Homo sapiens: one gene and its partners. The protein of the gene in region 1 purifies or fractionates together with the protein of each later gene. This does not show direct contact. Each region holds a gene or a part of one and is shown in the gene's direction. Other genes may lie near its edges.

The links.
Region 2: the proteins of NCF2 (region 1) and BPGM purify together in Homo sapiens (affinity purification with mass spectrometry; 2 studies listed by BioGRID and IntAct, with this or other methods). This does not show direct contact.
Region 3: the proteins of NCF2 (region 1) and TBC1D4 purify together in Homo sapiens (affinity purification with mass spectrometry; one large-scale study listed by BioGRID and IntAct). This does not show direct contact.

The regions. Positions count from the first base shown.
Region 1 is NC_000001.11:183,569,911-183,573,641, reverse strand, and holds part of NCF2 (neutrophil cytosol factor 2), read left to right. Parts: intron 1-349; coding exon 350-457; intron 458-2,802; coding exon 2,803-2,862; intron 2,863-3,731. UniProt on the Homo sapiens protein: Subunit of the phagocyte NADPH oxidase complex that mediates the transfer of electrons from cytosolic NADPH to O2 to produce the superoxide anion (O2(-)).
Region 2 is NC_000007.14:134,670,806-134,674,536, forward strand, and holds part of BPGM (bisphosphoglycerate mutase), read left to right. Parts: intron 1-3,731. UniProt on the Homo sapiens protein: Plays a major role in regulating hemoglobin oxygen affinity by controlling the levels of its allosteric effector 2,3-bisphosphoglycerate (2,3-BPG). Also exhibits mutase (EC 5.4.2.11) activity.
Region 3 is NC_000013.11:75,475,670-75,479,169, reverse strand, and holds part of TBC1D4 (TBC1 domain family member 4), read left to right. Parts: intron 1-3,500.

The DNA.
Region 1 (3,731 bases):
GTCATGAGCCTTGCTTGATCCCGGGCCAGCCTTGTCGTGGTGGTGCCCTCTACACCATGAGAGAACCCCACGGACAGCACACAGAGTGGGAGAGGAGCAGTTCCTCTGGGAAAAGAGGGTGCTGAATAGCAACAAATAGCAGCAATGTCCATGTGGCCTCGCAGCAGAAGGTGGTATTGAAACCAAGGGTTCCTACCTTAACACCCTAGAGGAATGACAACACTCATTTGGAAAAGGGCTTCTATGTGGTTATCTCAATGAATTCTTGCATCTATTCACTGAGGGAGGCAGGACAAGCATCGTCACCCCCATTTTCACATAAGGGAATGCTACGTTTTCTGTGTTACAGAAGCAGAAGCTATATGAGCCAGTGGTGATCCCTGTGGGCAAGCTGTTTCGACCAAATGAGAGACAAGTGGCTCAGCTGGCCAAGAAGGATTACCTAGGCAAGGCGACGGTAGGTGGGATTGCTCAGCTTCCCCTGAGTCTCCTGTGGCCCGGGCCATGTGGAGCAAGGTGGGAGGGACTCTTGAGAAGAGGGTAGCCTCCTTGTGGCTCTGTCCCTGGGATGGCAATGAGAGACTTGTTTATAGGACAGAGGTTTGGCTGAAAGATAGGCAACCATGTCTAGTTTATTTTCTCCAAGCTGCTCCCATTTCTCCCTTCCAGCTCGACCCTGGGTGAGAGCCACAGGGTTACTCACAGGATGCTGAGTCTTAGGGACTGAGCCAATGGAGGGAAAACACAGCCATGAGGAGCTCACTAAATGTGAAGAGAGGGCCAGGCAGGGTAGCTCATGCCTGTAATCCCAGTGCTTTGGAAGGCTGAAGTGGGAGGATCACTTGAGGCCAGGAGTTTGAGACCAGCCTAGCTAGTGGAGAGGCTGAGGTGAGAGGATCACTTGAGCCCAGGAGTTCAAGGCTACAGTGAGCTATGATTGCACCACTGTACTCTAGCTTGGGCAACAGATTGAGACTCTGTTTCTAAAAAATAAAAATAAATATGAAGAGAACATGTTAGGGAAAGAGATCAGCATGGGATCCTCTTGGATTAATGCTCCTTGTAGTTCACGTTTTAGTGGGCTGAGGAGTCTTTCCCCACTTCCACAGCCCTATGTTTAGACTATGTCTTAAATTGGACTTCTTCTAAATCCAGGTCTTGGCTGTGCATGGTGACTCATGCCTGTAATCCCAGCACTTTGGGAGGCTGAGGCAGGTGGATCACGAGGTCAGGAGTTCAAGACCAGGCTGGCCAACATGGTGAAACCCCATCTCTACTAAAAATACAAAATTAGCTGGGTGCTGCGGTGCATGCCTGTAATCCCAGCTACCTGGGAGGCTGAGGCAGGAGAATCGCTTGAATCCGGGTGGTGGAGGTTGCAGTGAGCTGAGATCATGCCATTGCACTCCAGCCTGGGCAACAAGAATGAAACTCCATCTCAAAATAGTAATAATAATAATAAATCCAAGTCTTAAATTCTTTCAGACATGGTCTGAAGTGAGTCAGCAGTGCCCTTCCAAAACCACATTTGACTTGACACATTCATAGGGCTAAAGTTGCCCAGTGGTCGGGTAGCTGGGTCTAGCATAGCAGCAGAGGTCAAGAAAGCCTGGGTGAGTGGAAGCCCTCCAAATATCTATCAACTGATGAATGAGTAATCAAAATGTGATATATCCATGCAACAGAATACTACGTAGCCATAAAAAGGAATGGAGTATGATTCATGATACAACATGGATGGACCTTGAAAACATTATGCTATGTGAAGGAAGCCAGATACGAAAGGCCACATGTTGTACAATTCCGTTTATAGGAAATATCTGGTGCAGCCTCTAAGCACTGAGAGAGCAGAGACCATGTCTGCTTGATCTCCACTGAGTCCTCACAGCCTGGCACAGTGCTAGACACATAACAGCTCTCAGCAAAAATGTTTTGATTATATGAATGAATGATGAAAATTATCTATAGTTTAAGCATATTTGTGAATAAAGCTAGCTTTACATCTGATTTTTAAAACTCAGAGAAGAGGGCTCAAGTCAGTCACAGAAAGCAAACCGGTTGTTGCCAGTTTAGGGGAAAGGGGAGTGTGGACACACTGCTTAATGGGTACAGCATTTTCTTCTGAGGTGATGAAAATATTTTGGAATTAGAGAGAGGCAGTAGTTGCACAGCATTGTGAATGTGATAAATGCCACTGAATCATTCACTTTAAAATGATTAATTTGGGCTGGGCGTGGTGGCTCATGCCTATAATCCCAGCACTTTGGGAGGCTGGATGGGTAGATCACCTGAGGTCAGAAGTTTGAGACCAGCCTGGCCAACATGGTGAAAACCTGTCTCTACTGAAAATACAAAAATTAGCCGGGCACAGTGGCGGGTGCCTGTAATATCAGCTACTCGGGAGGCTGAGGCAGGAGAATCACTTGAACCTGGAAGGCAGAGGTTGCAGTGAGCTGAGATCACGCCACTGCACTCCAGTCTGGGTAACAGAGCGTGACTCCGTCTCAAAAAAAAAAAAAAAAAAAAAGATAATTTGATGTTATACAAATTGCACCTCAATTAAAAACATTTCTTTTTTAAGAGAGAAGAAAGCAAGCCTGTGTTAGCAGGGGTGGGGTGAATGCTCGTTTCTTCAGTTGCTGAAATCCTAATCCAGAGGCTCAGGAATCTAATCCTTAGTTACTGTCCACGTCTGAAACCAGGCTCACGTAAGAACAGGTCTAGGGCATGAGCAAAGAGGGAGACCCAGAAGAATGGAAACAGTGCTGGCAGAGCCTCACACCCTCCTGTCCTTGATTTTAGGTCGTGGCATCTGTGGTGGATCAAGACAGTTTCTCTGGGTTTGCCCCTCTGCAACCACAGGTAAGGCAGTCCTGACCTTCTCCATGGACCTAGGTCTCGAGAGCTTTCTGTGAAGCATTCAATTCGAGAGACTATGTGTGCTGAGTTGCCTGATTGTAAGGGCTCCTTCAAGTGGCCCTCAGTGCAGCTGAGGGATCTGCCTGCCCTCTCTCAGTCCTGGTTTCCATGGCTGGTGAGGAAATAAGGCAGTGTCAGGCTTCACCCCAAGTCCTCTGAAGCTAACTCTCCTGCTTCCCCACAAATGCCGGTCTTCACATCTCTAAAGAGATCTGCTGATCCTCTCTCTGAAGCCTCAACTATTCTCTCAGGAAGCTGAAACACAAGCTATGGAAGGCTTATTAACAAAGCCTCTTCTTGAGTACAGGGGCAAGTGGGGAACCCTGTGGGGCCTGGGCCTGAGGTTTGGGCTCTCCTGGCTCTACCCATCTGCTCATGTGCAGGGGTTTCCTTCGGGAACACAGGCAGCGCACTGAGAGTGAACCCTTTTTCTGCCCAAGCTGGGCTTGGAGAGGTGAGCTCAGATGAACTGGATGATAGTGGATCTAGAAATGCACACAGAGCTTCCTTGTGAAGGAAAGAGGGGAAAACACATTAAGGAAAATACGAACTCTGTGGCAATGAACCTGTGATGGGCAAGAGTGTTGGTCAGCACTAGCAGAGGGCGGTTTTCTGAGCAGGGGCAGGTATGTTCCAGATCTAGATTCCTTGATCTCTTTCTTCACAATAAAGCTGATGAAAGCCTTGCTGAAGTCCCTTGAGCTTCAGTTCAGCCAGAGGCCATGAGGGGAATGCAGCCCAGGTAACTGGATTCCATGGTATTCAGTGTAGAACAGGGGAGGAGATTCTTGCCCAGTCAGTGGATCCTGTGT
Region 2 (3,731 bases), on another chromosome or scaffold:
TCCCTTTTTTTTCTAATTCCAAAGAGTATACACTACCGAATTGGGGTTTCTTCTTTCCTTCTCATCCTGTAGCGAATCTTTCTGTCTCTCTGACCATCTCTTCTGGTTTTCTAAAATTCAAAGATTTTGAACACTTTGGAGAAAATCAAAGAACATCTAAAGCCATTTAATTTGAATTGTTTATTTTATTGGCACTAGATGTAAACAGCTTTTTGTTCAAGGCTAAGATTCTTTTAATTCTCCTTTTTTTTTCTTGGTAAGGTCATAGGAGAGCACAGTGTTTAATCAAGGCTTCAACAATAAAAGACTAGATTTAATTTGAAAACCCAGAGAGTTCGAATTTATTCAATTCAGGTTTGCACCTAGGGTTCACTAAATCAGGTCTTGTTCATGGTACAAGGGATATAGCACCTATATGTGAATGAGACACACAAGGTCCTTTTGTGGAGCTTTTAACCTCTTTCTGAAATTTGTCTGTACTGTACCTCTGACAAAGTCCTTAGGGTGTTTTCATATATAGGCTTTATGTTTTAGGATTTTTAAATTAACATTTTGTTCTTTTTTTTTTTTTTTTGAGATGGAGTCTCGCTCTGTTGCCCAGGCTGGAGTGCAGTGGTGCAATCTGGGCTCACTGCAAGCTCCACCTCCCAGGTTCACGCCATTCTCCCACCTCAGCCTCCCAAGTAGCTGGGACTACAGGTACCCGCCACCACGCCCGGCTAATTTTGTTTTTGTATTTTTATTAGAGACGGGGTTTCACTGTGTTAGCCAGGATGGCCTCGATCTCCTGACCTCGTGATTGCCTGCCTCGGCCTCCCAAAGTGCTGGGATTATGGGCATGAGCCACCACACCCAGCCTAACATTTTATTCCTTATAGCCTTTAGTTATATGTAAAAAGTAGATTCACATAATAAATACAGCTGTAATTACTTAGTGGATCATATTACTGAATAATTTCTGGACCCTAGCAGCCAAACCATAAAAGTGTTACTTACAGTTGAATAAACATTTACTAAATCTTGCAGTGGGTAAAGCACTGTGTTGTAACAGCATGGGTGATACAGAAATGGATCAAACATTGTTCCTGCTCTCAAGGAATTTATAATCCTGGTGGGAAAAGTGAGCATTTGCACAAGCACCTCTACCAGGAGGTGCTTTAGTAGATGTACAGTGTACATAACAGTTTGTCTTTGGTTCCTGTTCCTGCTATGGTGACTTAGGGGAGGGGGTTGGTAGGTGCAAATTTGACTTCCTGAAGTTATTCCTCTATGCAGAAAATAAAGTTGTTTGACTTTCTCCCCAATTTTGGCCTTGAGCTACTTCCTGGACTTATTACCCCAAACTTTCATTATTTCTTCCTTAAAATATCCCATTATTTAAATTGACTGCAGTTAGCTCCTAGGTGCTTCTACATGAAGATTCGATACTTAAAGGCAGACTTTAAGTATTTAACACAGACTTAAAGACTTTAACACAGACTTAAAGACTTCAACACAGACTTAAAGGCAATGGTGGACCCTTAAAGACAAGGGTAGCTGTGAAGGGAAACACCACTGAGTTCTCACCCTGCACCTGCTCCTCTCCACCCTACTGTAGAACACAGTGCCTTGCCCATTGCAAGAATTTAGTGAATGTTTGTTCAACTGTAAGTAACACTATTATGGTTTGGCTGCTAGGGTCCAGAAATTATTTAGTAATATGGTCCACTAAGTAATGACAACTGTATTTAACTCCACACCACTGTGGAGAGGGGTAGGTACAGGGTGAGAACTCAGCAGTGTTTCCCTTTTCAGCCAACCCTGGAACAATATGGATTTGAACTGCATAGGTTCACTTATACATGGATTTTTTCCCAAAACAACTTGGATCAAAAATACTACACTTGCTAGATGTGAAATCTGTATATACATAAGGCTGATAGGACTAATTCAGTTTGGTTTAATATAGTTCAGATGCATTATTCTGGCCTTAGGAGCTCTGCCTGCTTAACTTTCTTAGGATGATGAATGTAACTTATGCCAAAATTGAGTAATGAGTAATGGCTTCACTGTGGTTTTTCCTAATTTGCTGTTTTAAAATTTTAGTTGGCCGGGCGCGGTGGCTCACACCTGTAATCTCAGCACTTTGGGAGGCCGAGGCGGGCAGATCACGAGGTCAGGAGATAGAGACCATCCTGGCTAACATGGTGAAACCCCATCTCTACTAAAAATACAAAAAAGTAGCCGGGTGTGGTGGCGGGCACCTGTAGTCCCAACTACTCTGGAGGCTGAGGCAGGAGAATGGCGTGAACCCAGGAGGCGGAGCTTGCAGTGAGCTGAGATCGCGCCACTGCACTCCAGCCTGGGCGACAGAGCGAGACTCCATCTCAAAAAGAAAATAATAATAATAAAATAAAATAAAACAAAATTTTAGTCACTTAAGTCTCATTGACTGATTATTAACCAGTCTAAGTATTTTAAATATTTGTAAGTAATTAGTCTGCTGTGTGAATGGCTTGAGTAGTCATTAAAGTGGAATGTTGATTTTATTTATTTATTGGAAACATTTCTATTTTTGTTGAACTCTCCTTCCTTTGTAGTTGAAATATTACGGCGGCCTTTGTTTATTTGGCTCTTTAATTTGGTCCCACACAAAAGGGACCAAACTTGAGAGTGCTGCTATTAAACAGGGGACCTGTTGGATCCGGTTAGATCTGAGGCCATGGTCAAACAAGTGAATCCCATGTATACCCAAGCCCCTTGCTGAAGACCTGGAACTCGTTTCTAAAGTCACAGACAACAACCCCTAAACATGGCCCATCATAATCGCAGTGTGTTAGCTGGGGATCAGACAAACTTATTCATTCCCTTTACCAGTCGTGGGAACACTGGATGGCATCAGCAGATGTCCATTTAGGACCCAGCCTTTCACGAGGGCAGAGCATTCATATAAACATTCTTCTCTCTCCTCCTCAGTAGTCGTGGAAATAACCATGGATAAGTCACCTGACCAGGGTTTAAATCCTGGGGATTTGGTAGTTTAAAAAGGTCCATTTTTACTGCCTTAATAGTCCTGTGAGTAGAGCAGGTTTTTATTTAACCACTCTGGATCTGTTTCCTTTTTTTTTTTTTTTTTTTTTTAAATTGAGACAGAGTCTTGCTGTGTCACCCAGGCTGGAGTGCAATGGCACAATCTCGGTTCACTGCAACCTCCACCTCCCAGGATCAAGCAATTCTCCTGCCTCAGCCTCCCAAGTAGCTGGGATTACAGGCGTCCACCACCACGCCTGGCTAATTTTTGTATTTTTAGTAGAGACAGGGTTTCACCATGTTGCCCAGGCTGGTCTTGAACTCCTGACCTCAAGTGATCCACCCACCTCAGCCTCCCAAAGTGCTGAGATTAGAGGCATGAGCCACTGCGCCCAGCCCTGTTTACTATTTTTTAACATCTTTATTGCGTTATAATTCACATACTATGCAATTCGCCATTTAAAGTATACAATTAAATGGCTTTTAGTGTATTCACAAAATTGTAAATCCATTACCACAATCAATGTTGGAACATTTTCACTACCCTAAAAAGAAACCCAGTGCCCCTTAGCTGTTATCACCCCCCCAGTTCCTCCCCTATTCCACCCAGCCCTGGGCAACAACTAATCTACTTTGTGTCACTATAGATTCACCTGTTGTGGACATTTCATGTAAATGGACTTATGCAGTAAGTGGTCCTTTGTGACTGGCTTCTTTTATTT
Region 3 (3,500 bases), on another chromosome or scaffold:
AAACTCAAATAACAAAGAAGAGGGTTGAGTGAGGACCATGGAGGACTGGATAGTGGGTGGCCTTTCTCAAGGTGCTACTTAGCTCCACTTGGAAATTGCATGAATAGGATGCAAGTCTAGCGTTGCTAGAGCTGCTGATTTCCCAAGAGAGAGTGGAAATCTGAATTTTTATATATGACCCCGCATTTTAAAGTACTGGCAAATATTGTAAACATTTAAGAATCCTATCTGGGCCAAACAATACACATCTGAGAGATGGCTTTAGAGATCCATGAGCGGCCACTTTTGATCTTTGGCATAAATATTTGTTGAGTGGACAAGCGCAGTCATTGACACTATGTGCTGTTTGCTGTATTTCCTTTAGAGCATCCAGGTTCATTTGATATGGCTGTCATAGTAGGGGAAGCTGGGACCATCCTTTTTGAAGAATTTAGCAGAAAAATTCCCAGAAGTGTTGATTCTGCAGCTAGACATGTTAAAGGGGTCAGTTCAACATATTATCATCCAGCAGTATGCTTCATGCAGAGTTGGCTGTGGATAGTTCTAGGGACCCTTGAAATCAGAAGGAAGACCTGCTGTTTGCTTTGTTCTGAGTTCTATATTTGAAGTGGAGAATTATTTATTTGGACTTAAGATCATTGTTAAGAGAGTCTCCTAAGTGTTTCCCTCAGTCCTCGACAGAGTCTATAAAGTCTACAAACGTAGCCTAGAGCAGTAGACCTGCAAACATCCCCTAACATACTTGTCTGTGGTTTGTCTGTCATGCCTATTCCTTTAATGCAATGGCCCTATCTGTTGGATGACCGTATACTTTATTGTTTGATATGGGACAATTTTATTGTCAAAAGGGGCACCACTAATAATTATACAAGCACTGTGAGTAATAAACCTGGACTGTTGAGGACAAACCGAGATATATGGTCACCATGGCAAAGTTTGTGTTCATGCAGAGCCACCGAGTTGGAGGATTGTGGTTACTAATATAAAATGATAATGTTTTCAAGAGTATCTACTCACATATTGGAGTTGGATCTACATTTGACCTTAGAGCTGGGAGTGCTGTACTAATCGCTTGGGGGTCTGTTGTGGGGAGTTGCCACAGTGATGTGTTCCCTCTTGGCTCCACACCTCCCTTTGGGTCAGAGTCAATTTAAGGATGTGTGTCAGGAGAAGCATTCAACCAGAATGGCTCAATGCACCACTGTTTCTCCAAGGTGCAAAGAGAAATGGAGATGGGGGTGAAATGTATGCCAATGCAGATCTGTCTCTAGTCAAGCCTATGTAGTCTTATACAGGAGGAATGTCAGGCTTAGCACATTTCAGCTAAACTTGAATATTTGAACTGGGAAAAGGGCTTAATCCCATTGGCATGAAGTGAATTACAGACTTAAACTGATTGGGGAAACAAGAATATCTGATTCTCTCCCAAAGGTCTAGGATAGGTCACTAATACTCTGTAAATATTTATCCACTTGCAAAAAGAGTCTGTATGGCATTACCCAAATTTTTCTGTTAAAAAGTTATTTTATGTTATACATACATTACTACAATAAAAAATAAAGCAGGAGTTGTTATTGAAAATATGAGACTTTGTTATGTTAATTTTTAATTAACATTTGCCTGTGAGTTTTGAAGCATCATTATGTTTTATAATTATAGGATGAACAATCATTTAAAAGGTAAAAACATGATTGTTATAATGTTTATTGGTTGTTTTTGTGTATTATTTACTGAAGCTTGCAAGAATGATTTTAAAGAGACTTTACAAATTGTGTTCTTAAGATTAAAAAAAGGAATTTAATGCCAGTGTTTTCCCAACTCTCAGTTCTCTTAAAAACGTGTATTACTATCTGAGCTTTATTCACGTAACCAGTTTTTTTGTCAATATATTTTTAGAAGGTCATTTTTCAGTTCTTTTTCAAAGTTGATGGTTAGTAGCTTTGAGAATATACTAGTAAGAATACCAGAGAAATTGAAACCTGGAAGATTTCACCTCTCTGTGCTTTCTAAGAAGTTTGTTCTGTGGACAGATAGATCTATCTCTTTTTTTGTAATCATTTTTTATTCTCTCTCCTCCTTGCAGTCTGAAGTGGAGGTTAATTTGCCTTGGCTCTGTGGTAGAATCTTGACTGCAATATCTGGCGGAAAGGCACAAACATAGCCCAGAGACTCCCAGCCACAATGGAGCACATTATGATAGGAGCCCTAAGCTGAAAATTGAAGGTGTTCAGTGTCAGGGCTTGATTATCAGAAACCAGAGATTCTCAAACTTCAGTGTGTGTGTCAGAATTACCTAGAGGGCTTCTTAAAAGAGACCACTGGACCCTACCCTCAATTTCTGATTTAACAAGTTCTCTGGTGATGCTCAAACTACTGGCCGGGTGACCACAGTTTTAGAAACCCTGTGCTAAGTTATTTGGTTCATTTGGTTGGCTGTATGACCATTTCTGTTCCCCTGGATATTTTTGTAGTCTTTCTCAGACTTGAAAGTTCAAGTGGAATGTGAGGAGAAATAATATTTGACTCTGGAATATTTTTAAGAAGCTCTTCATCTTCTAGCTTAATGATTTGCCTGTCCTTTCCCTGATATAGACATTATTCTGCCAGACATCATAAGACCATGCAAATGTTGAATGAAAACTTTGCCTTTCAGCCAAAAGTTTTAAGTTCTGCAGGTGGAATAAACAGTTCATTTTGAGGGGAATACAGATAACCTAAAAATCTGAAGTCCAAAGTGTTTTAACGTCAGAAACGTTTTGAGCATCAACATGACACTACAGGTGGAAAATTCTTCACCTGATTTCATGAGATCACAGTCAAAACACACAAAATTATTAAACATATTGTATAAAATTACCTTGAGGCTATGTGTATAAGGTGTATAGAAACACAAATGAAGTTTTTTTGTTGTTGTTGTTTATTTTTTTGAGGTGGAGTCTCGCACTGTCGCCCAGGCTGGAGTGCAGTGGCGCGATCTCGGCTCACTGCAACCTCCACCTCTCAGGTTCAAGTGATTCTCCTGCCTCAGCCACCCAAGTAGCTGGGATTATAGGAGTGCACCACCACGCCCAGCTAATTTTTGTATTTTTAGTAGAGACGGGGTTTCACCATATTGGCCAGGCTGGTCTCAAACTCCTGACCTCAAGTGATCTGCCCGCCTGGGCCTCCCAAAGTGCTGGGATTACAGGTATGAGCCTCTGCACCCAGCCAGAAACATAAATGAATTTTATACTTAGACTTGGGTCTCATCCTTAAGATATCTCATTATGTATATGCAAATATTCCAAAATCTGAAAAAAAAATTCAAAATCTGAAACACTTCTGTTCCCAAGTATGTTGGATAAGTGATACGCAACCCATATATCCTAATTTCAGATTATGATAGTTTTTGAAAAAATTAAAGCTTGATTTACAGCCTGAGAAATAACACCATTCAGTAAGGCAGAGACTGTTCACATGCCCTTTTCTCATTTTGGAATGAGTAATTGCTTGGTGAGGAA